3 separate regions of the Homo sapiens genome follow, and regions 1 and 3 are each linked to region 2. Evidence: fine-mapped expression QTL. A gene starts in region 2. Each other region holds a variant in brackets. All regions are shown on one strand. Distances are from middle to middle. Region 1 overlaps CARNMT1 (carnosine N-methyltransferase 1). Region 2 holds the start of C9orf40 (chromosome 9 open reading frame 40). Region 3 overlaps TRPM6 (transient receptor potential cation channel subfamily M member 6).

Region 1 (8,009 bases), 43 kb after region 2:
GCCATTCTTTGTCCATGTGTTTTATATCTTTTTATATTTTTACTACTACTATAATGAGGAAAGGGCTGTATGTGTTCAGTCATCTATCTTTTAAAGGGAATCTCGTTTTAAAAAATTCTAGGCCAGGCACAGTGGCTCACGCTTGTAATCCCAGCACTTTGGGAGGCTGAGGCAGGTGGATCACCTGAGGTCGGCAGTTCAAGACCAGCCTGGCCAACATGGTGAAACCCCATCTCCACTTAAAATACAAAAAACAGCCAGGTGTGGTGGCGCACGCCTGTAACCCCAGCTACTTGAGAGGCTGAGGCATAAGAATCGCTTGAACCCAGGAGACAGAGGTTGCAGTGAGCCGAGATGGTACCACTGCACTCCAGCCTGGGTGACAGAGTGAGACTCCATCTAAAAAAAAAAAAGAAAAAAAAATTCTGTAGCTTCATAATGCTCTAAAATCTGATAAGACCTATCTTTCAGTACACTTTACAAAGATCTCCTTTGGTACTTTTACCAGATGTAGTTACATTTTAATTCTTCAGATGTAGTTAGATTCATTTTATTAATTCTTCCAGATGTAGCTAAATGCCTGCCCTCCACTACCTGACTCCCAAATTTATCAGTGGATACATACACACACACTTTCTTTTTAGAAGAAATTATAAATAAATGTGTTTAAGGAGTGCTGGTCAGGATGAAAAACTGAAAAAGGGAATTCACAGGCATTCTTTTGTTCTTTGCCAAAATCATAGCCTTACCCAAAGGACATATGCATAATAGTTCCCTTAAAAGGCTTACTAGCTTTCCTTAAACTGGGTAGTGTTAAAGAGTCCATCAAATCCTCCTTAATTAAAGCATTTGTAAATTAATGATCCCCACCAAATCTGATTTCATGCAGTTTGGGCAACATTTTCATATATAATTTTACCTCCAATGTCATTTGTTCCAGAATGGCTGGCCATTACATTTCCCATTATATATGAATATATTGATGTTCTAGTCTACCTAAGCAGGGTTAGGGTAAAATCATCCCCAAGAGGTTGATCTCTCAGTTTACAGGGTAAATTAAGCCTCCAGGTCTATATAATTAAAGCCAAAACCATAAGAATGTTATGAATTTACCAATATAGATGGCACTTCATCATCTCTTCGAGACATCTTAGTATGTTCCCTTTTTCAAATTTTGAAACAATACATTCATACATACATGTAACAGTCATTAATACCCATTGTTTGCCAGGCTTTGTACCAGGTGACTAGGAAGCATTAGATCTTTGCCCTTATGGAGCTTAGAGACTAGCAGTGGAAACAAAAGCATATGGGTGCTAATACCAAACTGAAGTATATGTTACAGCAGAGTCTCTTAGAACATAAGAAATACAGAATACTTAACCCAACCCGAAAGGATCACCTGAGCTAAGTGTTTAAGAACACATAAGGACTAACCAAGGGAAAACAGAAGAGAAAGAAAGGGCTAAGTCAAAGGACTGGCACTTGAGGTCAGAGAAGGGGTGGTAAAAAATAATCCTGAAGGTAAAAAACATAATCCTGAAGAGTTTAGGTTTTCCAGAAAGCTAGAATTTCATGCAGGGAGTCTTACAGGAACAGATTTGCATGTTAGGAAGGTCACTGATGATTATGTGGAGAAATGAAAAGGGCCGAAGACAACTTGAAGGCAGGGGCGTCCTTAAGGAAATTACTACAGTAATCCTAATGCTAATCCAGGCAAGAAACCATGAAATTGGAGCAATGGTTCTCAACTGGGGATGACTCTGCCAACACCCTCCACCCCCGGAGGGCAACATTTTTCAATATCTAAAGACATTTTGGTTGTCAAAACTGGGAGGTACTACTGGAGTCTTAGAGGCCAGGAAGGCTGTTAACCATCCTACACTATACAGGTCAGACCCCCACTTCCCTCACCACTCCCACTGAAGAATGATCCAGCCCAAATGTCAAAACCACAATCGAGAAACCCTGGAATAGAAGGATATTCAAGAGCGATTAAGTAGCTTTAGGAGATACAACTTTTAGACTGACTAGAGACAAACAGCGAGGAAAAAGAGAGGTCCTATTGACTGTTTGTGTCCCCCTGCCTCCAAATTCACATGTTGAAGCCCTAATCCCCAGTGTGGCTGTATTTGAAAGTAGGACTTCTAAGGAAGTAATTAAGGTAAATGAGGTCGTAAGGGTGGGGTCCTCATCCAATAGGATTAGTGTCCTTATAAGAAGAGACACACCAAAGAGCTCACTCATGCTCTCATTCACTCCTTCTCCCTCTATGCACAACCAAAGAAAGGCTATGTGAATACACAGCAAGAGGGTAACCCCTGCAAATCAAAGGAAGAGCCCTCACTAGACACCAACCTGGTGAGCACCTGGAATTCCAGTCATCAGAACTGTGAGAAAATAAACTTGTTATTTAAGCCACCCAATCTGTGGTATTGTTATGGTAGCCTGAGTGACCTAATAAAAGGGGTAACGAAAGGCTCCCAGTATTTTTCTTCAGGGTAACCTGAGTAGATGATTAATAGAAAAGATATTGGGAGGCATGGAATCATTTTCTGTTTTGTTTTGGCTTTTTTTTGAGATGGGGTCTCAGGGCATGTTGCCCAGGCTGGTCTTGAGACACAAGGATTTTGAAGTATCTGTGGTACACCCAAGTTGGACATACTGGCTTGGAGCACAAGAGAGATGTTTGGACCAGAGATACAGATTGGGAATCCAAAGAGTAGGAAAAGCCATGAGATTAGGTAGGAGGAATATGGAGTCAAAAATGAGTACATGGCATAAAAAATGAAAAACACAGATTAGATGCCCAGAACACAGTAACATTTAAAAGAAAGCTGATTCTGAGACTTTTTTTTTTACATTCTTTAACTTATACATGCAAAAGATGTGTAAGTTAATACTTTATAAAGTACTAACCTTCCAAATAACTATTTTTAAGGACTGTGTTTCTCCATTATTACAATTTTCAAAATTGTTTTGAGACTCCATAATGGAATTAGCTCTCCTAATTGACTTCCTGTTAACCAACATGCTCCATTACTTCTGATGCCCATGACAGATCATAAGTCACACTATAGTACATCTACTCTTATCAAACAGTATACTTATCAGGAGCCAACTTTATGTGCTTCAGGTAGTTACAATTATTGTATTATATAACTTAATAAAATATTCATAAACCAATAAAACAAATGTTAAAAAAAAAGCTGTTTCTATGAAAGTCACATGCTCTGGAAATACATAAAACCTTACCATAACTCAGTAATGGGGGTCAAAAAATTTAATTATATAAACACAGGGTCATGTTAATGCTAACTTACAAATTAACTGAGGGTAATCAAGAAATTGGCTCTGGGCTTCAAGCCTGTCTTTGCCACATGTAAGCTACAGGACTGTTCTGCTAGTTATTTAACCCAAGACTCTAAGTCTCTTCAACTATAACATAGTGCCATTTCAATATAGGGCTGCTTTGAGATTCCACAAGGTATTTATAAGGGACCAACACAGTACCTAACCCACAGTAAGCAAATACCCAGTAGGTAATATCTTTCCATTTTTCCTTGGGAAAAATTTCCCAAGGTAACTACTTTTAAAGAAGACTTACAGTTTGGGATATTTATTTTATTATGATTGCATTGTACAGCTGCTTTCATCTGGTCCTAAGGAATTCTTAAGAGAAGTTTGCAAAAGACTTACTACTACCTCCAGGGCTTAGTCCCAAATGGCAAAATTTCTGGTAAATTAAAATTAAAAAGAGAGTAGGTGTCAGAAATCAGTCACAAAACTAGACCCACCCGGAAGGCCAAGGGCTCAAGACCATGTACGTTATGTCCTTTTATGTAGTATAATAATCCTTATCTTGAAAACCTTTATGTTCTAGTCATGATGTCTTTCTGAACACAGATTATATATCTCACGAAAGAATACATGTATATCTACCTGAATATTATCATTATACCCCCTTTATTTTAAAAAGGAGTAAAATGGCAATTTCCTTTAGATTCTGGACTGGAGGGACCATGTTATAGTCAACATTTAATTTCTAACATCGAGTAGTAAGTAGAATGCAGTAAAAAAAA[A/T]TTTTGCATAAAAAAAATTGTGTTTCTATTCTTTCTTAAACTCAAGGTAATCACAGAAGTTATCACACCTACACCCTTCCCAGTATATGGATGTACTAGGGAGGAAGATTCCATGGAAGAGGTAAAATCTCCCCGCATGCTTCATTATAGAAAGAAAAAGAGAACACTCTCTTCCTAACAGAACGGACCACTGTCTCAGCATGTGGGATGGTGATAATGAGGGAATGATTACCTACCATCAGATCAACAATTAGTATACACTGAAATTACAATGACTGTGAGACTGACCTAAGTGTGAATATACAACTTCTGAGCTTCCACTGCCTTTGGAGGGATCACCACCAGGATGCAGTCTAAAGGAAACTGTAGTGGTTTTAAAACATTTACAACATAATTCTAATGTTCATGCACATTTGAGACTGTGAAGTTAAATGTAATACAGCTGTAAGTACTCAGATTAATATACAAAATTTTAGTAAATACTAAAAAACTTACCTAGATTTATCCAAATTCCACCTGGCTTGAGTATTTTCCATATTGTATCAATATAATCAATTACATTGTGAGCTGTGTCTATGAAGAAACAGGTAGCAATACAGTCCCAGGTATCTAATGAAGAAAAATCAAATTACTGCATCTGTTATGTTATTTTGCTTTTTTCTTTTAATTAATTATTTAAATCTGCCAGTTACCTTTTACAGAGTATTAATATTTGACAGAGATACAGAAGCTAAACTTCTGATCAACATTATAATTACAGTAACCAAACAGTCATTTATGGGAAATACTGATATCAATAATCTGATTAAGTAATCAATTTGGAAATCATCCCCAATAACACTAATATTATAATCTAATCTCTACATATTATTACCAAATGGTATTTGTTAGAGTTTTGTTTATCCTCTATTCAACTTCTAGCCTTCATTTAAAATCACTTAAAACAAAATAATAGTCATTCAAATTTAAACTAGTGTTAACCACCAATTCTGGCAGGTTTCAGAAAGACTGCAGGCACCAGTTGCCAACTGAGAAATGAATGACATCCAAATACTTCAACATCTACCACAACTTCGAATAATTACCAGGGAAAAAGGGGAGCCAGGGGCAGGCAGAAGCAGTGGGTGGGAACCCAGTAGAGAACACCGTTTGCCTCTAGGAGGTATGGTGTCTATACAAATGCTGGTGCAATAAAGGCACTTGATCCCATGGAGGACTACCTTCATCATCTGTTCTCTCAAACCTTGCTCCAGAAAAAGGGGACTTTTACTTGCCTAAGTGATGTTTTCCATTATTTCATTCCTTATCCACAACACCTAACATCTTCCATCTCTCCCTTTCTTCCTTCAGAGTACAGGTTGTCCCAGTCTCAGAGTTCAGAGAAAAATAAACAAAAACTTTCTATGTTGTAAAATAAATAAATAAATAAAAACAATCTATGTTGTTGCTATCCCTGCTTTAAGCCCTCCAATGGCTTCCTGTTTCTCTGAGTACAATTCCAAGTCCTTGCTATGGCCTGCCAACAAGTTTGCCTCATCAAACCCTCTCGAGGCTGACCTCTCACCACTGTACCCATTGCTTACTACAGCCTAGCTCCTCCTTGAGCAGAGCAAGCACTCACTCTACTCCCTGATCCTCTTCCCTTGCCATTCCCCATCTGCAAAATTTTGCCTTCAAATATCTCAGTGGTTTGTCTGTGTACTCTTTCAAGGTTCTCTACTAGACATTTTTTTTTTTTAGTTTCTACTCTTAGAAAGGCTTTCCCTGACAACTCTATATAAAGCAGCAGCCTCTCCCCAGTCACTCTGTAACCCGTCTTCCCTGCCTTATTTTTTCTTCCTTACAATATTGTATTTGTTATTGCCTCACTTTCTCTATTGGAAGTTCTCTGTGGACAGGGATTTTGTTTTGTTCACTGTTCTCTTTTGACACCTAGAAAAATACCTAGTACTTAGTAGGTGCTCAACAAATACCTATTGACTCAATGATCTTGCTGAACCCTCGGTATTCTATTTTGCTTTCCTTTTAGTGCCAATCTCCCTCTCCACTTTCCCTATTACCATCTCCCTTTCTCTCCTGCCTAGCTCAGATTTCTTCAACAGTTTGCCAGGCTGAAGTCAACTGTGCAGCCTGACTATACAAGTCCTCCATGATCTGGAACAAATTCACTTTTCTAGCAATAGCTCCTATTAAATCTCATTAAATCTCCCATTAAATCTTTTCTTTCCCTGCCAGTACAGCTGTGCTGCCATCCCCAATCACCTTGTTCATATCTTTGTACTTCTGTCTGCCTCAAATGCTATTCTCTCAACCTTCAAGTCATAGCCTCACTATGAACAGCTTCCTTCTTACACTAATAACCTTTCATTTTTTTGGTATTCATTACTCATTTAACCTTTGTTTACATGGTATCTCTTAGTATTAATGGGCCCAACAGATTCTAAATTTCTTGACTGTAGATATCTTACACTTCTTATTTCCTATCACTGCCTTGTACACGACCTTGAAAACATTCTAAATTGACACTGACATATGCCTTATGTTCTACCATCAAAATGAATGATCTAAACCTTGGCTTAGGATAAAACTAGCTCATTAAATTTAGAATAAAGGACAAGACTTTTTAAACGCTTGATTTGGACTTACTGCATTCTGAATAAATCTCTTGAAAATCTCCTGCTGTCATAGAAAAGTTAGAACCAGGAGGAAGACTGTGGGGGTCAACATCAGGGAAAAAGATGGGTCGAATCTGATCAGCTGATCTCCGGTTATTGCTAAACTGATGGATCCAAGGATAAAGTTTATATTTATTAATTTCAGAACATCTGCAAAATATGAGTATAAAATCAGGTGTTAACTAAATATTTTACCAAGAAAATCCACTTTAAATACTAAAAATATACTGTTTAATTGAAGATTTGCATATATAATTAATATTTAAAGAGTCACTATTACAGCTTCCCTAATTATCTGAAAATGTACATATACATGTAGATGAGCAACCAATCAATGGATTAAAGACAGAAAAAAAAAGTAAATTCAGAGATATAAATGTGCTGTTCATTCAGATTTTTAAAAATGTATTTCTAAACTTCAAAACCAAGTAATAACAGTCCAACGAGGTTTTTTAAAATGGTACTGGTTTCAACTAAAACAGTTTGCTATTTTTTGTATAACCCTCTTCTTTTTTCCCTTTTTCACCAATCCCCTAAAACTCATACTGCCATCCGAGACAACATATTATTTAAACAAGGCAGCTACTCAATGTACATCTTCTGGCTTTAAAAATAACAATTGTTTTCCACTGCCTTCCAAAAGAGGCCACAGAAGTTCTGAGAGATCTTTCCAACTCAGTCATGAGAGCATACTTGGCCATTTTATAAGAACTTGATTAAGGAGAAAAAGTTATAATTGCTAAACTAAACTCTTATTTAACTAAAGAAACAAGGAAGTAAAGAAGCTTAAGGAATAAATTTAGAAATACTCCTTCCTGGTTCATACTTAGTCCTGAAGATTTTGTACAGAAATCATTTCATGGAATGCCCAGTCACTTTCTATAAAGTCACTTACCCATCTTGTTTCAACACTCTAATAACTAGGCAATTGGTTCAAGTGATAATTTGTGTAAGTACTTTGATTTTAACATAAGACACATTTGTGATATATATAATAATCAAATGCTATGTACTTATCTTCAAATTCAAAATTGTTCAAGAAAATAGGTAAGTCAATCTGATTCTGAGAAATTACTATTTCCAGCAAAAAATAAATTAAATACCTGTTGAGTACAAAGTTGGAAGAAAAGAGCATAAAAAAACTCCATTCATTTCCTTGACAAGCATAACCTAGCATAGCTATTTCCCAGGCCAGTCTTCCTAGTCCAGCACCAGGTACCAGAATATTTACTTTAGAAGGATCCCTGAAATG
Region 2 (8,009 bases):
GCTTGAGCCCCAGAGTTTGAGACCAGCCCTGGCAACAAAGCAAGACTCCATCTCAATTTATGAAAAACAAACAAATAAACAAGAAACTAACAGTTAACACTGACAGAGCAGTGAATCTACATAGTGACACTAACATGAAAAAAATACATGAATATTTAATGAATACCTGATTTTATTTCTGTAGTCAAAAAACATCTGAAACAGGAAATACCCTGAAGTTCCGGGACAGAAATGACGTAACATTATCCTGCCTAGATTGTATTCTCAATGTAGAAAAAAGGTATTTGAGGTAGTATTTCCTAAATGAAGTCCCAAGGGTGAGGGCTGGGACTTAAGCCCTATTCTGAGCACAAAAGAAACCAGGCATTTACTGTATTGAACTGTTTACTTCTTTTTGTTATATTCAATTTTCCCTTGGTAATCAGGTATAAAATCCTTAAAACAAAAAGCCTGTGTCTTTGGAGGCAGGAAGGAGAAACAGAAGCTGGAGAGAGCATGATTGTAAAAGAGAAGCGCCTCCAGAACAAATCTAACAAAAAGAAGGAATAGGAGTGTTACTGGGCTTTCCTCAAAAGAGGGCCTGACAGTGGCTCACGCCTGTAATCCCAGCTATTTGGTAGGCAGAGGCGGGAGGATCACTTGAGCCCAGCCTGGGTAACATGGCAAAACCCCATCTCCACAAAAAAAAAAAAATTAGTCCAGCGTGGTGGTGTGCACCTGCAGTCCCAACTATTCAGGAAGCTAAGGTTGCAGTGAGCTGGGATGGTGCCACTGCACTCCAGCCTGGGCATGGGAGCGAGACCCCAAGACCCTTTTTTAAAAAACAACAAAGAGAACAAGGGTAGTCTTGGTGAAGAAAGAACCCCTGGAGCCAACCTTTTTCCCTGTCATGCGCTTGCAGCGACTATAGGAAGTAGAGAGCTGCCAGATCTAGTTACTGCTGTGGGGGAAAAGAGTTGAGTCTAAGACTAAGCAAGCATCACCGTTTCAGGCTACTAGAGAACTCTTACGCTTTGCCTACTGCCATTTCCATATTTCCCTCTTATCACTGTGTGGCATAGTATAGACAGTGTATTCTGTATTCTGGTAGGAGACAAGCCTATGCATGAGTGGAGTACTAAAATGGTCTGAAGAGCTTTCAAAAAGTTTTCAAACTACACAGTCCCTAATCTCCATATCCATTATGGATGGATGGTTTAGAAGACTATCCATCTGTTTTCAGTTGATTTTGAATATCTGAGAGCAATCTGAAGAAAAAGTTTAAATAAGGCTCATGTTTCAACCATAGGAAAAAAAAAAAAAAAGTCTTTCCCAACTATAAAACTCTCGTTATTTTATTGGATTTTTCACATGAACAAGTCATGCCTAAGAAATTTCATTTATTTTTTTGGAAAGGTATTTGAAAACCCTGACATAAGATACTTGAGAAAATAGAAAAACGTTGGGAGGATGCTATCAGACAGCTGAAGAGAATTTGGTGAATTCTGAGAAACCTGTACTTGGTTCTTCATCTCCCAAGTCCCCTGCCATTCAGGATTGTGAAAAAGTAGTATGAATTCCTAAGTCTAGACCAAAGCTGTCCAATAAATATATAATGCTCCAAAAACATAATTTAAAATTTTCTAGTAGCTGTATTTAAAAAGTAAAAGAAACTTCTGGTATTAATTTTAATATATTTTCTTCAATATAGCCAAGTTATTTCATGTGTAATCAATATAAAATTGAGCTATTTTATCTTCATTTATTAAATCCACGAAATTTCGTGTATATTTTAAACTTAGAGCACATTTCCATTTGGACTAGTCACGTTTCAAGTGTTCTTACCGGCTAGCGGCCGGGCAGCAGAGATCTAGGCAAACCGAGGCATACCTAGATCTTCTCAGGATTCTTACATGCAGAGATGAGGCAGGCTCATGTCTTGAATAAAAACCCGCCAATGATTCTCATATACGCCTTAAGGCCCAAATTAATTTTCTTTTTTCTTTCTTTTCTTTTCTTTTTTTTTGAGACAGCGTCTCACTCTGTGGCCCAGGCTGGAGTGCACTGGCCCAATCTCAGCTCACTGCAACCGCCATCTCCCAGGTTAAAGTGATTCTTGTGCCTCAGCCTCCCGAGTAGCTGTGATTACGGGCATACACCACCACACCCAGCTAGTTTTTGTGTTTTAATAGAGACAGAGTTTCACCCTATTGGCCAGGCTGGTCTCGAACTCCCGACCTCAGGTGATCCACCCGCCGTGGCCTCCCAAAGTCCTGGGATTCCAGGCGTGAGACACCACGCCCCGCCCCCAAATTAATTTTCAATGATACTTTTGCCTAGGATCAGATTTAACACTATGAGTTAAAACAAAGCTTTGACCAAGGTACGGTGGTCCATCCTTTTCTCCAGAAGCTGTACCAGCCGGTAGGACGTTCAATTAATCAATGGCTACCACACTGGTCTCCCTCTAGAAAAAGAACTCTATCCCGAATTCTAGACTAATCATCGTTAAACCCAGGAAGGCCCTCTACACCTTTATCTGTCGTTTGTCTTTGGGCTGAACCTATGCCCTGACGGTCTGCGTTCTCGCCATGCTCACAGCCCGCCACGACCCACGGTCCCGTTTCCCTTTTACGGAGCGCGGCGCTGACGCCGCAAGGCCACTTCTATCGCTCCCGACCACGGTCTGTTTCCCCCTCGCCCAGCCCAGTGCTTTCTGCCCATCGGACTCTCGGGGTGTGCTTCTGGCGGTCGGCGTCCTCTCCCGGAGCGGTGACCCCTTCTTTCAACCCCCTCAGGCGTCTTAACCTACACAAGTCATGAGTGGGAACCGGGGCGTTTTGTGTGTGTGGGGAAAAGGCAAGCCCCTTCGCCCCTCAGCCCACCCGCCCCCAGCCCCTACCTGGCGCGATGCGACCCCCCAGTCTCCCCGCGGGGGTCCTGCGCGCCCCGCCCCGTCGTCGCCACCGCCCCCCGGGAGCCGGGCGCCCGGGAGCTCCTCCCCCGGCCCCGGCAGTACGGGCGGCGGCGGCAGCGGCGGATCGCCTGTCTCCAGACCGTGGTCCTCACGCTCCTGGCCGCTCGGGGCGCTGTTGTCCCCGCTGTCACGGCGCTTGCTGGGCGAAGCCGAGGGCTCTGCCATGGTCCCTGCGTCGATTTTGCGCTTTCGGTGCTGCTCTGGGACGCCGAGGAGCTGCCCAGCATGCGCGACCCCGGGCGGCCGGATCCAGAGAGGCGGTGGCGGCGGCTGCTCAGCGAAGTCGCAAAGCAGGAGCCGCTTCCAAGGCACGTGGAACGTCACCGGCTCGGCCGCACGCCGCTTGGCCATGGGCCCAGAGGCTCGGGCGGAGCCCGCCAGGCGCGGGAGACCGAGTGCCGATAGCTGCGGGGGGCGAAGAGCGAGGACTGAGCGCGTGAGAGAGGGACAGGCCGAAGTCGGGCGAGGAGGCGACAGGACGCTGGAGGGGGTAGGGCGGGGCAGCTCGCGCAGGGCCTAGGGCTGGGGCTCCGGCTCGGAGGCAGCTCCCGCGCTCAGCCCTCGCCGCCGCCGAGATGCGGCCCGGACGTTGAGAAGCAACCGCGAAGCGGCGGAGATTCGAACCTGCGCACAACGTGCGCGCGCGCACTCTGTCTGGCCAGGCGGAGCCGCTGGTTGGTGGAGGCTCGCGGGGCGCGCTCCCGAGCGCCCTCGCGACCGGAAGTGCGCGCTCGGGGGTAGGCGGGAAGGCCGCGGCGGGATTAATTAAAGACCCGATCAAGCGGCCCGCAGAGGGGCGTGACCTTGTTTCCTCAGGAGTGTGGCGGTGGTCTTACTACTATGTTCGTTATAGCGCGGTACGTTCTAGACCCTTCTATAGGAAATTTAAAACCTTTAAAATGTGTATTTCCTTCCTCCAGTCAGTGACCACGGGGGCGTCTCCATGAGATTAAGACAAAGATTATAATAGAGTTCCAGACTATCCTGGGCAACATAGCAAGACCTCGTCTCTACAAAAAATCAAAAATAGGCCAGGCTTGTTGGCCTGCCCCTGTGGTCCCAGCTACTCGGGAGGCTGAGGAGGAAGATTCACTTGAGCCTGGGAGGTGGAGGCTGTAGTGAGCCAGAGATCGCACCACTACACTGCAGCCTGGGCAACAGAGCGAGATGCCGTCTCAAAAAAAAAAAAAAAAAAAAGGAAAAGGATAATACAAGCTTTAAATAAAACTAGTGTTTAAGAAGCTTCACAGTAGGTTGTTATTCAAAACAAAAGACTGAAGGGAGTCTGGGCTGAGGGAAGTAGCTAAAGCTAACAGAAAACACAAATCGAAGTGTATGTTTTGCATGTTTTGCGCAGCTGCTGTGGAAGGTGAAGCAGGCCCTACATTCCTGGAAGATCTCTTGATTAAAAACTTATGGAGGAAGTTACAGACAAAATGTGCAGCTCATCCAAAATAGCTGAGTAGTTGGCAAGAACCAAGCCTGAAGCGCAGCTGTCCTTTCTAACTGAAACCTAAAATTGTTGGGCTCTTAATTAATGTTGGAAGGCTGAGTTCCCTGCTTACTATGGGCGGTGGTCAGATCAAGATTCTATGGCCATTACAGCAAAATAGTGTTGTCAGGTGAAGTGAGGTGGAGACAATTGCAGTATATTTACTATTTTATTATTTTTATTTTTTATTTTGTTTGAGACAGGGTCTCTCTCGGCCACCTAGGCGGGAGTGCAGTGGTGCCATCACGGCTCACTGCAGCCGGGCCCCACTGAGCTCAAGCGATCTCCTGTCTGGGCCTCCCAAAGTGCTTGGTTTATAGGTGTGAGCCACCGCATCTGGTCGTATTTACTATTTTAATAGTTTGATAAAGACAGTAACCAAGTAAGCAGAAATGGAAGGAAGAAAATAAGACTATTACCAGTGCTTTGAAGGGAAAAACTATCATCCTCTGTAGAAAAAGTGTGCAAGAAAGATAATTCTATTTTAGTGCTAGGTACTATCTCAGTACTAATTTACCCTGTACCCCTGCATCTCAAGGTGGTTGTGAGAGGACAAGTTAATTATTAGTTATTAACAAGCACAGAAATGTACCAAGTTAGGGTAGTAAGCAATAGCTTTTCTGTTTGGTTTTTACTTTTCTTGTTTGAAATTGGTAACCGGCCGGGTGCGGTGGCTCACGTCTTTAATCCCAGCACTTTTGGGAAGATGAGGTGCACAGATCACCTGAGCCCAGGAGTTCCATACCAGCCTGGCCAACATGGTGAAACCCCATCTCTACAGAAAATACAAAAATTAGCCAGAGGTGGTGCCTTGCACCTGTAGTCCCAGGGAGGCTGAGGTGGGAGGATCGCTTGAACCCTGGAGGCAGAGGCCAAGATTGCACCACTGTACTTCCAGCCTGGGTGACAGTGTGAGACCCTGTCTCCAAAAAAAAAAAAATAAATTGAAAACCCGTCTGTCTCAAACAGAGGAAGAGTTTTGCCATTTTTAAATCAGCAGGAAAGATCTTAATCGTAGTCATCAAGTGCTGTTTGAAAGGTTTTGAGTACCCCCAAAATAATAAGTTTAGCTAATGGTTGGTTCTTTTGTGTTCCTCTTTACAAACGCTCATTTTTTCAAAATTGTGAAACTTATCATATATGCAAAAGGTTGTATAAAATACACATGTAGTTAAAAGAATGATAGTAAGACATACAGCATTCTGTTTCAGAAATAGAATACTACCTATACTAGAACATGACAAGCTCCCTATGCGTCCCTTCCCCACTGGCACATACCCTTCCCTTTCCCTCACTCCCGGTAATTACCGTTTTACATGTTGAGTTAATCATTCCTTTGCTTTTTAACTCTTCCATTTGTATGTCTGTATGTATATTGCTAAATAACTTTTTTTTTTTTTTTTTTGAAACGGGGCTTGCTCTGTTGCCCTGGCTGGAGAGCAGTGATATGATTACAGCTCACTGCAGCCCTGACCTCTCAGGGGCAAGCAGTCCTCCCACCTCAGCCTCCTGAGTAGCTGAGACTACAGGTGTACATCACCACACCCAGCTAATTTTTAAAATTTTTTTGTAGAGCCAGGGTTTTGCCACGTTGCCCAGACTTGTCTCAAAGTCCTGAACTCAAACAATCTGCCTGCCCTGGCCTCCCAAAGTGTTGGGATTACAGGCATGAGCCACCACACCCAGCTTAATATATTTTCTGAGACCAGGTCTTGCTCTGTTGCCCAGGCTGGAATGTAGTGGCGTGATCACTGCTCACTGCAGCTTCAACTTCCTGGCCTCAAGCAATCCTCCTGCCTCAGCCTCCCAAGTAGCTGGGCCCATGGCTTGTGCCACCACACCCAGCTAATTTTTTATTTTTAGTAGCAACAAGGTCTCACTATGTTGCCCAGGCTTGTTTTGCCGGGCTTTTTTTTGTTTTTGTTTTTAAAACAGCTTTACCTAGGTCTAAATGACACACAATAATGTGCATATAAAGTGTACAATTTGACATTCATACACCTGTGAAACCATAACCACCATCAAGATGATCAAAGTTTTGAGAGCAGTCTTTGACATCTTGTTCTTTAGGAGTGTGTCAACTATACTTGGCCCTTTGTTCTTCCATAATAGCATCCTCTGTAACATTTAGTTACCCTTTTGGAATTTTGGTTATAATTGCATTGAGATTATAGATCAATTTGGGAAGAATTATTATCTTTACAATACCAAGCTCATTTCCTGTTCAAGAATATAACTATTTAAGTTTTTAAAAATCTTTCAATAAAGTTTTATATTTCTCAACATAAAGAGCTTATATCTTTGTTAAGTTTATCCCTAGGCACTTTATAATTTTTGTAGACAATATTCTTTTTCTTTTTAAATAACATTTTCTGAGTTTTTGTTGCTGCTCTGGGTTCTTTTTTTTTTAAGGCCCCAGAAGTAGAATTTGAAATTAGTTTACCCTAAGTTGTAAGTAGTACCAGATCCACTTGTTCAAGGAATTTGTCCATTTCATTCATCACATTTGTTGGAATATTTTCTTAGTTTCTCTTTTTCCCATTTCATTGGCTTCTACTAAATTTGGATTTACTTTGCTCTTCTTTCTCTAGCTTCTTCTAATAGAACCTAGGTCACTGATTGTAGTCTTTGTTAGTTTCTTTTTGGAGACAGAGTCACTCTGGCTGGAGTGAAGTGGCACGATCTTGGCTCACTGCAGCCTCTGCCTCCCAGGTTCAAGCGATTCTCCTGCCTCAGCCTCCCGAGTAGCTGGGACTACAGGTGCATGCCACCGCACCTGGCTAATTTTTGCATTTTTAGTAGAGGTGGGGTTTCACCATGCTAGCCAGCTTGGTCTCAAACTCCTGACTTCAGGTGATCCACCCACCTCGGCCTCCCAAAGTGCTGGGATTACAGGCGTGAGCCACCGTGCCCAGCCGTCTTTGTTAGTTTCTAAAATAAACACTTAAAGCTGTAACTTTCCCTGTAGCACTGCTTGGGCTACATCCTACAAATTTTGGTATGTTGTATTTTTATTATCTTTCAGTTTGAAATACTTTCAAAATTTCCTTTCTTGTTACTCTACCTCCTTCCTATCGTTATGAATTTCATTTTAAGTTAACCTATTGGTATTTACTTAGCTATACCTCTTTGAATTAATAATGTGGTTGCCATAAGGACTGTTCATATACATCTTTATTTTTTCACAGTCTAGTTCGAGCTAACATTGTACCACTTTATGTAAAACATAAATACCTTGCACCCCTCCCCCTGCCCTATCTAAATGCATTTTTTATTGATGTAATAGGATCTTCTACCTATTCTACATATCCCATAATTTTGTGGATAATAACTCAGAAGTCATTAGTTACAACAAAACAACAAAGAAGGGAAACTTTTTTTCTTCTTACTGAAAAAGGAATACACACAAACTTATTCTGCTTATCTTTAAACTTGTGTGTTTCAGACTAACTGAAGCCTCACAGCAGTGTAGGGTGGGGAAGTAGTTTAAAATTTTTTAATTGCCAGAACTTTTACATATCTCATTTGATCCCAAAAACTTTGGGGCAGATTATTGCCAGT
Region 3 (8,009 bases), 72 kb before region 2:
GTTGCTTTGAAACAAATTCTGGCACTTCCTCAAAAGGACAAACACAAGAGTTATCATATGACCCAGAAATTCCACTCCTAGGTATCGCCCCAAAAGAAATGAAAACACATGTCTATACAAAAACTTGTATACAAATGTTCATACCAGCATAATTCATAATTGTCAAAAAGTAGAAACAACACAAATATCCATCAACTGATTAATGGACAAATAATATACAATGCAGCCACAGGAAAAAAGCACCTGGACTCCAGTGGGCCCTGAGACTAACAGGGAGCTGCCTGGAGACCATGTGATGGCATTGCTCCAGGGAGGGAGCTCACACTGAGTTCCACGCACACTATGAATTCTAAGCAGCTACAGCAAGGTGCCATTTTTAGAGTCCAGCCACCACCAGACTGCATCCTATCCTGGGACCCAACAGCCCCACATCTCCATATCCCTGGAGTCCCATTGATATCCCCTGCCCACAGCCCACCTCCACTGTTTGCTGCTGCCTACAGGGCCAAACCATGAGCCATTGGCAGTGACCCCACCATGCTCCATATTGGGGTCACCACACATTTAAAAATGCCCTGAGGAAAGGCAGCCTCATTTAAAGCCACCAGCTGGAGCCAAGCTAGCTTTCCCCTGCTGCCTGTTTACAGCTTCTGCCACTGAAACAACTCTGCCCTCCCCAGCAGCAGGGCCACAATGCAGCCGCTGCCACTCCAACTCAGGCATTCCACCAGGGGCCTGGGGATCACCTCACCCCTCCTACCACAGCCAGTGGCTACATGCACCATGAGGGGCCTGAGGAGAAGCCCACCCTGTCCAACTCCATCCCACCCAGTGCTGGAGCACACCATCCAGGGGCCTAGGGATCACCTGCCCCACCCACCACAGTTGGCACCTGAGCTCTCCTCCCAGAAACCTGAGAATGGGCTCACCCAACCTGCCACCAACACCACAGCTGGCACCCACACGCACACCACCTGCAGGCCTGGGGACTGACCCACCTAGTCCATCACAGTCAATTTCAACACCAGCATGGATCACTTGGGAACCAGAGGATTGTCTCACCACTGCTACTGTCATCATTCACACCACACCCACTGTCCAGGGGCTCAAGGACACACCTGCCTGCCCTTCCCACCATTGCCACTGACAGCACCCAAGAAAGTCACCTGCAGGCCCAAGAATCAGCTCACCTGGCCCTACTAACACCAGTGTCAGCATATGCCACCCAAGGGCCCAAAGACTGGCACATTCAGCTCACTGCTATCACCACTAGGGCCCAAGGACTGGCCCATCTTATGTCCCCATCCCCAGCAAAACCTCACCAAAGCCTCCACTAACAATCACACCTGAAGCCACTGAGCAAATCTCAGACACTACTGACACTGTTTATAGCTGAAGAAATCATAACGAGACTATACTACTGCACACACCCAGAATCAAAGCCAAAGTGCCCTACCTAAACACCGCCACATAAACGTCTTCAGAATACAATCCCCCCCGTGCAAGCAAATTCAAAAGATTGGAAGAAGCAATGGTTATGCCACATGCACAGATATCAATGTAAGGACACGAGAAACATGAAAAAGCAAGGAAATATGATACCTCCAAAGGAACATAATAATTCTCCAGCAATAGATTTCAATGAAGAAATTCATAAAACCCAGGAAAAAGAAATCAAACTAATGACATTAAAGAAGCTCAGCCAGGTGTGGTGGCTCATTCCTGTAATCTTAGTTACTTGAGAAGCTGATGCAGGAGGACCACTCAACCTCAGGAGTTCAGGAGTTCAATCTGCCATTGAGCTATGATTGTACCACTGGAATCCAGCCTTGGCAACAGAGTGAAACCTCATCTCAAAAAAAATTTCTTTTTAATTTTAAAAAAGTTTTATTTAAAAAGCTCAGTGAGATACAAGAGAACTTGAAAATACAATACAAAGAAATCAGAAAATTCAGGATACAAATGAAAAATTGACAAAAGACATAAATATCATTAAAAAAGAACCAAAAGAAATTCTAGAATTAAAGAATTCTCTGAATGAAATACAAAATATATTAGAAAGCTTCAACAATAGACTCAATCAAGCAGAAAGAATATGAGCACCTGAAAACAAGTGTGATGAAATAACCCAGTCAATGTGGTGTAATGATTTAAATACATATATTTGTATATGATTTATATATATATGATTTATATACATATATACATATATATATAACAAGGAACCATTTTATATATATAAAGGAACCATGGATATATATAGGGTTTTACCCATGGTTCCTTGTTAATAACTCCCATATCCTTTCTTTGAGTCTTTTGTTATAATGTCAGGTGTGTTAGGCCTCAGGGGAAGTTCTGAGGAAACAGAATTTGTCTCCTGCCTTTCTTATACCTGGCCCAATGCAGGATTCTAATCTTTCTGCTCCTTTCTGATTGTGGGCCTTAAGTCCCTTCCCAGAGAGGGTCCCACCCTATACCCTGGGAGAAGAAATTTTGACATCATGAAGCTTCCATAAAAATCCAAGAGGACCAGGTTTGGTGAGTTCCTGGATAGCTGAACACATAGAGGTTCCTGAAGGGTGATATGCCCAGGGAGGCATGGAAGCTGTGCAACCCTTCCCCCATACCTAGCCCTGTGCATCTCTTCATCTATATCCTTTGTAGTATCCTTTATAATTAACCAGCAAATGTGTTTCCCTAAGTTCTGTGAGCCGCCCCAGCAAAATTAATGAAATCCAAAGAGGAGGTCATGGGAACCCCAACTTGAAGCCAGTCAGTTAGAAGTTCCATCTGAAGGAGGCAGATGTAGTCTTGGGGAATGAGTCCCCAACTTGTGTGATCTGGCACTATCTTCAGGTAGATAGTGTCAGAACTGAATTGGAAGACACCTACCTGGCATCCGCTGCTTGATGTGATGGGAAAACTCCCACACACATATTTGTCACAGGAGTCCTCTGTGCTGATTGTTGTGGTGTAAAAGTAGAGGAGAAATGAGGATTTTTCCTGACACAGACAAAAATAAAGAAAAAATAATCTAAAGAATAAAGTCTATGTGACATATGAGGCACCATAAAGAAGCCAAATATTCAAAATTTTGGTGCTCTGGAAGGTGAAGAGAAAACAAAAGGAACAGAAAACCTATTTAATGAAATAATAACTGAAAACCTCCCAGGTCTAGCAAGAGATGTAGACGTCCGGAAACAGGAAGCTCAGAGATTGCCAGAAAGATACAATTCAAAAAGATCTTTTCCAGAGCACATTATAGTCAAACTGAAAGAATTCTAAATTCTAAAAACAGCAAAAGAAAAATGTCCAGTGATTTATACAGGAACCTCCATCAGACTAACAGCAAATTTCTCAATAGAAACTTTACAAGCCAGGAGAGAATGCAATGATATATTCAAAATACCGAAAAAAAAAGCACTGCCATCCAAGGATACTATTCCTAGCAATGTTATCCTTCATAAATAAATGAGAAGTGAAGTCTTTCCCAGATAAGCAAAAGCTGAAGAAATTCATCACCATTAAACCAGTCCTATAAGAAATGTTTCAGCAAGTCCTGCACATAGAAGCAAAAAGACAGTATCTACCATCATGAAAATACACGAAAGTATAAAACCCACTAATAGGACAAACACACAAATAAGGAAGTAAAAGTGCTTAAATGTTACCACTACAGAATACCACCAAACCACAATGATAAACAATAAGAGAGAAAGAAAAGAACCAAGGATATACAAAACAACGAGACATCAATTAATAAAATGGCAAGAATAAGTGCTCCCAGATCAATAATAACCGTGAAACTAAATGGATTAAATTTTCTACTTAACACATATAGATTGGCTGAATGGATTGGAAAAAAACAATGACCCTGGCTGGGCGTGGTAGCTTGCACCTGTAATCCTAGCACTTTGGGAGGCCCAAATGGGAGGATCACTTGAGGCCAGGAGTTCAAGACCAGCCTGGTCAACGTAGCGAGATCCCATCTCTACAAAAAAATTTTTTTAATTGAAAAAAAAGACCCAACTATATGCTACCTGTAAGAAACTCATCTCACCTATAAAGACAGATATAGACTGAAAGTAAAGGAATGGAAAAAGATATTCCACGCAAACAGAAACCAAACGCAAGCATAAATAACTATACTTATATCAGATGAAACAAACTTTAAGTAAAAAAAAAGTTAAAAGAGACAAAAAATGTAATTATATAATTATAATTATATAAGGCAATCAATTCAGCAAGAAAGTATAACAATTCTAAACATATATGCACCTAACAAAGCATGCACCCCAATATATAAAGCAAATATTATTCGATCAAACAGAACAAATAGACTCCAATACAGTAACGGTTGGGGACTTCAACACCCCACTCTCAGCATTACACAGATTATCTAAACAGAAAATTAAAATAATATTTAAATTGTACTTTAGACCAAATGGACCTAATAAATATTGACAGAACATCTCATCCAACAGTTCCAGAATACACATTTTTATCAGCATGTGGAACATTCTCCAGAATAGACTATATGGTAAAACACAAAACACATCTCAACTAATTTTTAAAAATCAAAATCATATCATGTATCTTCTCAGACCACAAGATAAAGTAAAACTAGAAATCAATAATAAGAGGAACTTTGGAAACTGTACAAAAGTATTCTTATAGCTATAGTAACCAAAACAGCATGCTATTGGTATAAAAAGACACATAGACCATTGAACAAAATAGAGAACACAGAAGTAATTCCACATTTTTACAGCTAACTGAATTTTGACAAAGGCATCAAGAACATACATTGGTTACAGGACATCATCTTCAATAAATCATGCTGGGAAAACTGGATATTTATATGCAG[C/T]AGAATGAAACTGAACTCCTATCTCTCACCATATACAAAAATCAACTCAAGATGCATTAAAGACATAAATGCAAGACTTCAACTATAAAGATACTAGAAGAAAATATAACGGAAACACTTCAGGACATTGATCTAAGCAAAGATTTTGCAGCTAAGACCTCATAAGCACAGACAACAAAAACAAAAGTACACAACTGATTCAGTGCTTCTTGGTTGGTTAAAAAGAAAAAAGAGAAACAAAAATACACAAATGAGACCATGTTAAACTAAAAAGTTTCTGCACAGTGAAGGAAACAATCAACAAAATGAAGAGACAATCTGTTGAGTTGGAGAAAATATCTGCAAACTATTTATTTGACAGGGGACTAATATCCAGAATATTAAAAGAACTCAAACAACTCAACAGTAAACACAAAACAAATAAGCCCACTGAAGAGTGGGCAAAGGACATGAATCAACGTTTCTCAAACGAATACATACAAACAGCCAACATGCATATGAAAATATGCTCAACATCACTAATCAGCAGTAAAATGCAAATCAAAACCACAATGAGATATCATCTCGCTCCAGTTAAAATGGTTATCATAAAGAAGACAAAAATTAACAAATACTGGCAAGGATGCAGAGAAAGGAGACCCTCATACACTGTTGATAGGAATGTAATTTAGTACAGCCGTTATGGAAAACAGTAATGGAGGTTCCTCCAAAAACTAAAAATGGAATTACCATTCAATCCTGCATTCCCACTACTGAGTATTCATCCAGCTGAAAGCAGATTCAACCACCTATTCAAAGTATAAGACAAAGCCCACTACAAAGGAGTCTGTGTGAGAATCTCTTTTTCCATTTTTGTTTTAATTGTGGTAAAATATATAATGTAAAATTTACCATCCTAACCATTTTTAAGTGTGTAGCTCAGTTTTGCTAAGTATATTCACATTGTTGTGCGGCCAATCTCCAGAACTTTTTCATCTCGAAAAACTGAAACTCTATACCCATTAAACAACTAAACATTTCCCCTCCCCTAGCCCTGCCAACCATAATTCCACTTTTTGTTTGTATGAATTTGATTTCTATAGATGCCTCATAAGTGGAATCATACAGTATTTATCTTTTTGTGACTGGTTTATTTTACTTAGCATTATGTCCTCAAGGTTCATCCATGTTGTAGCATGTGTCAGAATTTCCCTCCATTTTAAGGCTGAATAATATTCCCTTGTGTATATATGCCATATTTTGTTTATCCATCCAGAAAATCTATTTCTATGTCAGTGGTATTGTTCTGTTGGTCTGGTGGCACAACAGGTATTTAGCTCAATTTTTAATGATTGTGATTTTATACCAAGAGAAAAAGAGATGTGATTGTATATTTGCACTCTAGGAAAGGAAAACCAAATTAAAGCTGAAACTGAGCTCAGTTTCATCGAGAAGCATCTCACTATCCCTTTCTATCTCAAAAATAAAAGTTTTATTCACTGTATATTCCCAGATTCTGGAAGACAGTTTGGCACATAACACTCGGTCAGTATTTGTGACTGATTGTGAAGAGAAAATGCTATACCTATGATCTTGATCACTCCAGTTCATCTGAACATACTATTCAAGAAGGCACTAATGTGTATTGACATGGAAAAATCTACAGGAACTACTGTTAAGTGAAACAAGTTACAGATCAATATATACAATATGATTCAATTTATTTAAAAACACATGCAAAGCCAGGCACGGTGTCATGTGCCTGTAATCCCAGATACTTGAGAGGTTGAGGTAAGAGGATCCTTTGAGCTCAGGAGTTCAAGACTAGCGTGGGCAACATAGTAAGATTCCATCTCAATAAAATAAAATTAAATTAAAATAAATAGATCGGGTGCAGTGGCTCATGCCTGTAATCCCAGCACTTTGGAAGGCCGAGGTGGGTGGATCACCTGAGGTCGGGAGTTCGAGACCATCCTGACCAACATGGAGAAACCCTGTCTCTACTAAAAGTACAAAATTAGCTGGGCATGGTGGCACATGCCTGTAATCCCAGCTACTTGGGAGGCTGAGGCAGGAGAATCGCTTGAACCTGGGACGCAGAGGTTGTGGTGAGCCAAGATTGTGCCATTGCACTCCAGCCTGGGCAACAAGAGCAAAACTCCATCTCAAAAAATAAAGTAAATAAATAAATAAATGCACAAATCAAAATAATAAATACATATGTATGGCCAGGCACAGTGGCTCACACCTATAATCCCAGCACTCTGGGAGGCTGAGGTGGGCAGATCACGAGGTCAAGAAATCAAGACCATCCTGCATAACAGGTGAAACCCCGTCTCGACTAAAAATACAAAAAATGAGCCGGGCGTGGTGGCGGGTGCCTGTAGTCCCAGCTACTCGGGAGGCTGAGGCAGGAGAATGGTGTGAACCCAGCAGGCGGAGCTTGCACTGAGCTGAGATCGTGCCACTGCACTCCAGCCTGGGAGACAGAGCGAGACTCTGTCTCAAAAATAAATACATATATACATACATACATACATACATACATACATACATACATACGTATATAAAAGCACATCTAAATAATATGCTCCAAATCAACAGTTTGATTACCTCTGGGTCAGAGGGGGAGTAGTTGAGGGGTAGAAAGGGAACTTTCTATTTGGATTTCTATTTGTAGTATTTGAATTATTTACAACAAGAAATTATTTTTATATTGTTAGTGACAAAGTTTTTAAGGGAAAAACATCTGGAGAATTATTTTCTGTGATACACAATCAAGGAAAAAAACATATTCAATTCTGTTTACCTTACATGTACCTTTTCTTAGAAAGCTACTGGAGAATGTGCTCCATCAAAATGATAGAAGAAATCAAAAAAGACTAAGGTGTGGGATATAGGAAACAGGAGCCAGCATAACAGAGATGCAAAGTGAATCAGTCCCCAAATGATGGTGAAGAGAGAGCCCAAGGTAATAGCTGTGCATCAAACATCAAGAGCAACCAGTCTGGACTGGCAAAGCAGGTAAGAAAGCTGTGATAGAAATAAAATTGATTCAAATAGCTGTTGCATTGGACATCTTGAGGGAAGATTTAGACAACTAACAAAGAACTTGTGGTTAAATTGGTGAAAACTTTGCAAACACAGAGAGACAACTCTGGAA

What was found.
Region 1: its variant is fine-mapped to the expression of C9orf40 in blood mononuclear cells (TOPMed, PIP above 0.99).
Region 3: its variant is fine-mapped to the expression of C9orf40 in whole blood (INTERVAL, PIP 0.95).

Annotation. Positions count from the first base shown.
Region 1 is chr9:74,991,870-74,999,878 of GRCh38, forward strand. It overlaps CARNMT1 (carnosine N-methyltransferase 1), which reads right to left. Exons shown (of 8, transcript NM_152420.3): 4 at 7,861-8,001; 5 at 6,729-6,907; 6 at 4,578-4,691. It overlaps CARNMT1-AS1 (CARNMT1 antisense RNA 1), which reads left to right. Exons shown (of 5, transcript NR_121183.1): 5 at 4,129-5,513. Among named protein-coding and RNA genes, the nearest start is that of CARNMT1, 32 kb to the right of the region's middle. The variant A/T (reference allele first, on the strand shown) is at 4,083.
Region 2 is chr9:74,949,305-74,957,313 of GRCh38, forward strand. C9orf40 (chromosome 9 open reading frame 40) reads right to left here and starts at 3,608. Exons shown (of 2, transcript NM_017998.3): 1 at 2,882-3,608. The coding sequence starts at 3,307. CARNMT1-AS1 (CARNMT1 antisense RNA 1) reads left to right here and starts at 3,661. Exons shown (of 5, transcript NR_121183.1): 1 at 3,661-3,813. RefSeq lists an enhancer at 2,500-2,569 and silencers at 2,900-3,109, 3,380-3,589.
Region 3 is chr9:74,877,137-74,885,145 of GRCh38, forward strand. All of the region lies in intron 1 of TRPM6 (transient receptor potential cation channel subfamily M member 6), which reads right to left. Among named protein-coding and RNA genes, the nearest start is that of TRPM6, 6.8 kb to the right of the region's middle. The variant C/T (reference allele first, on the strand shown) is at 4,868.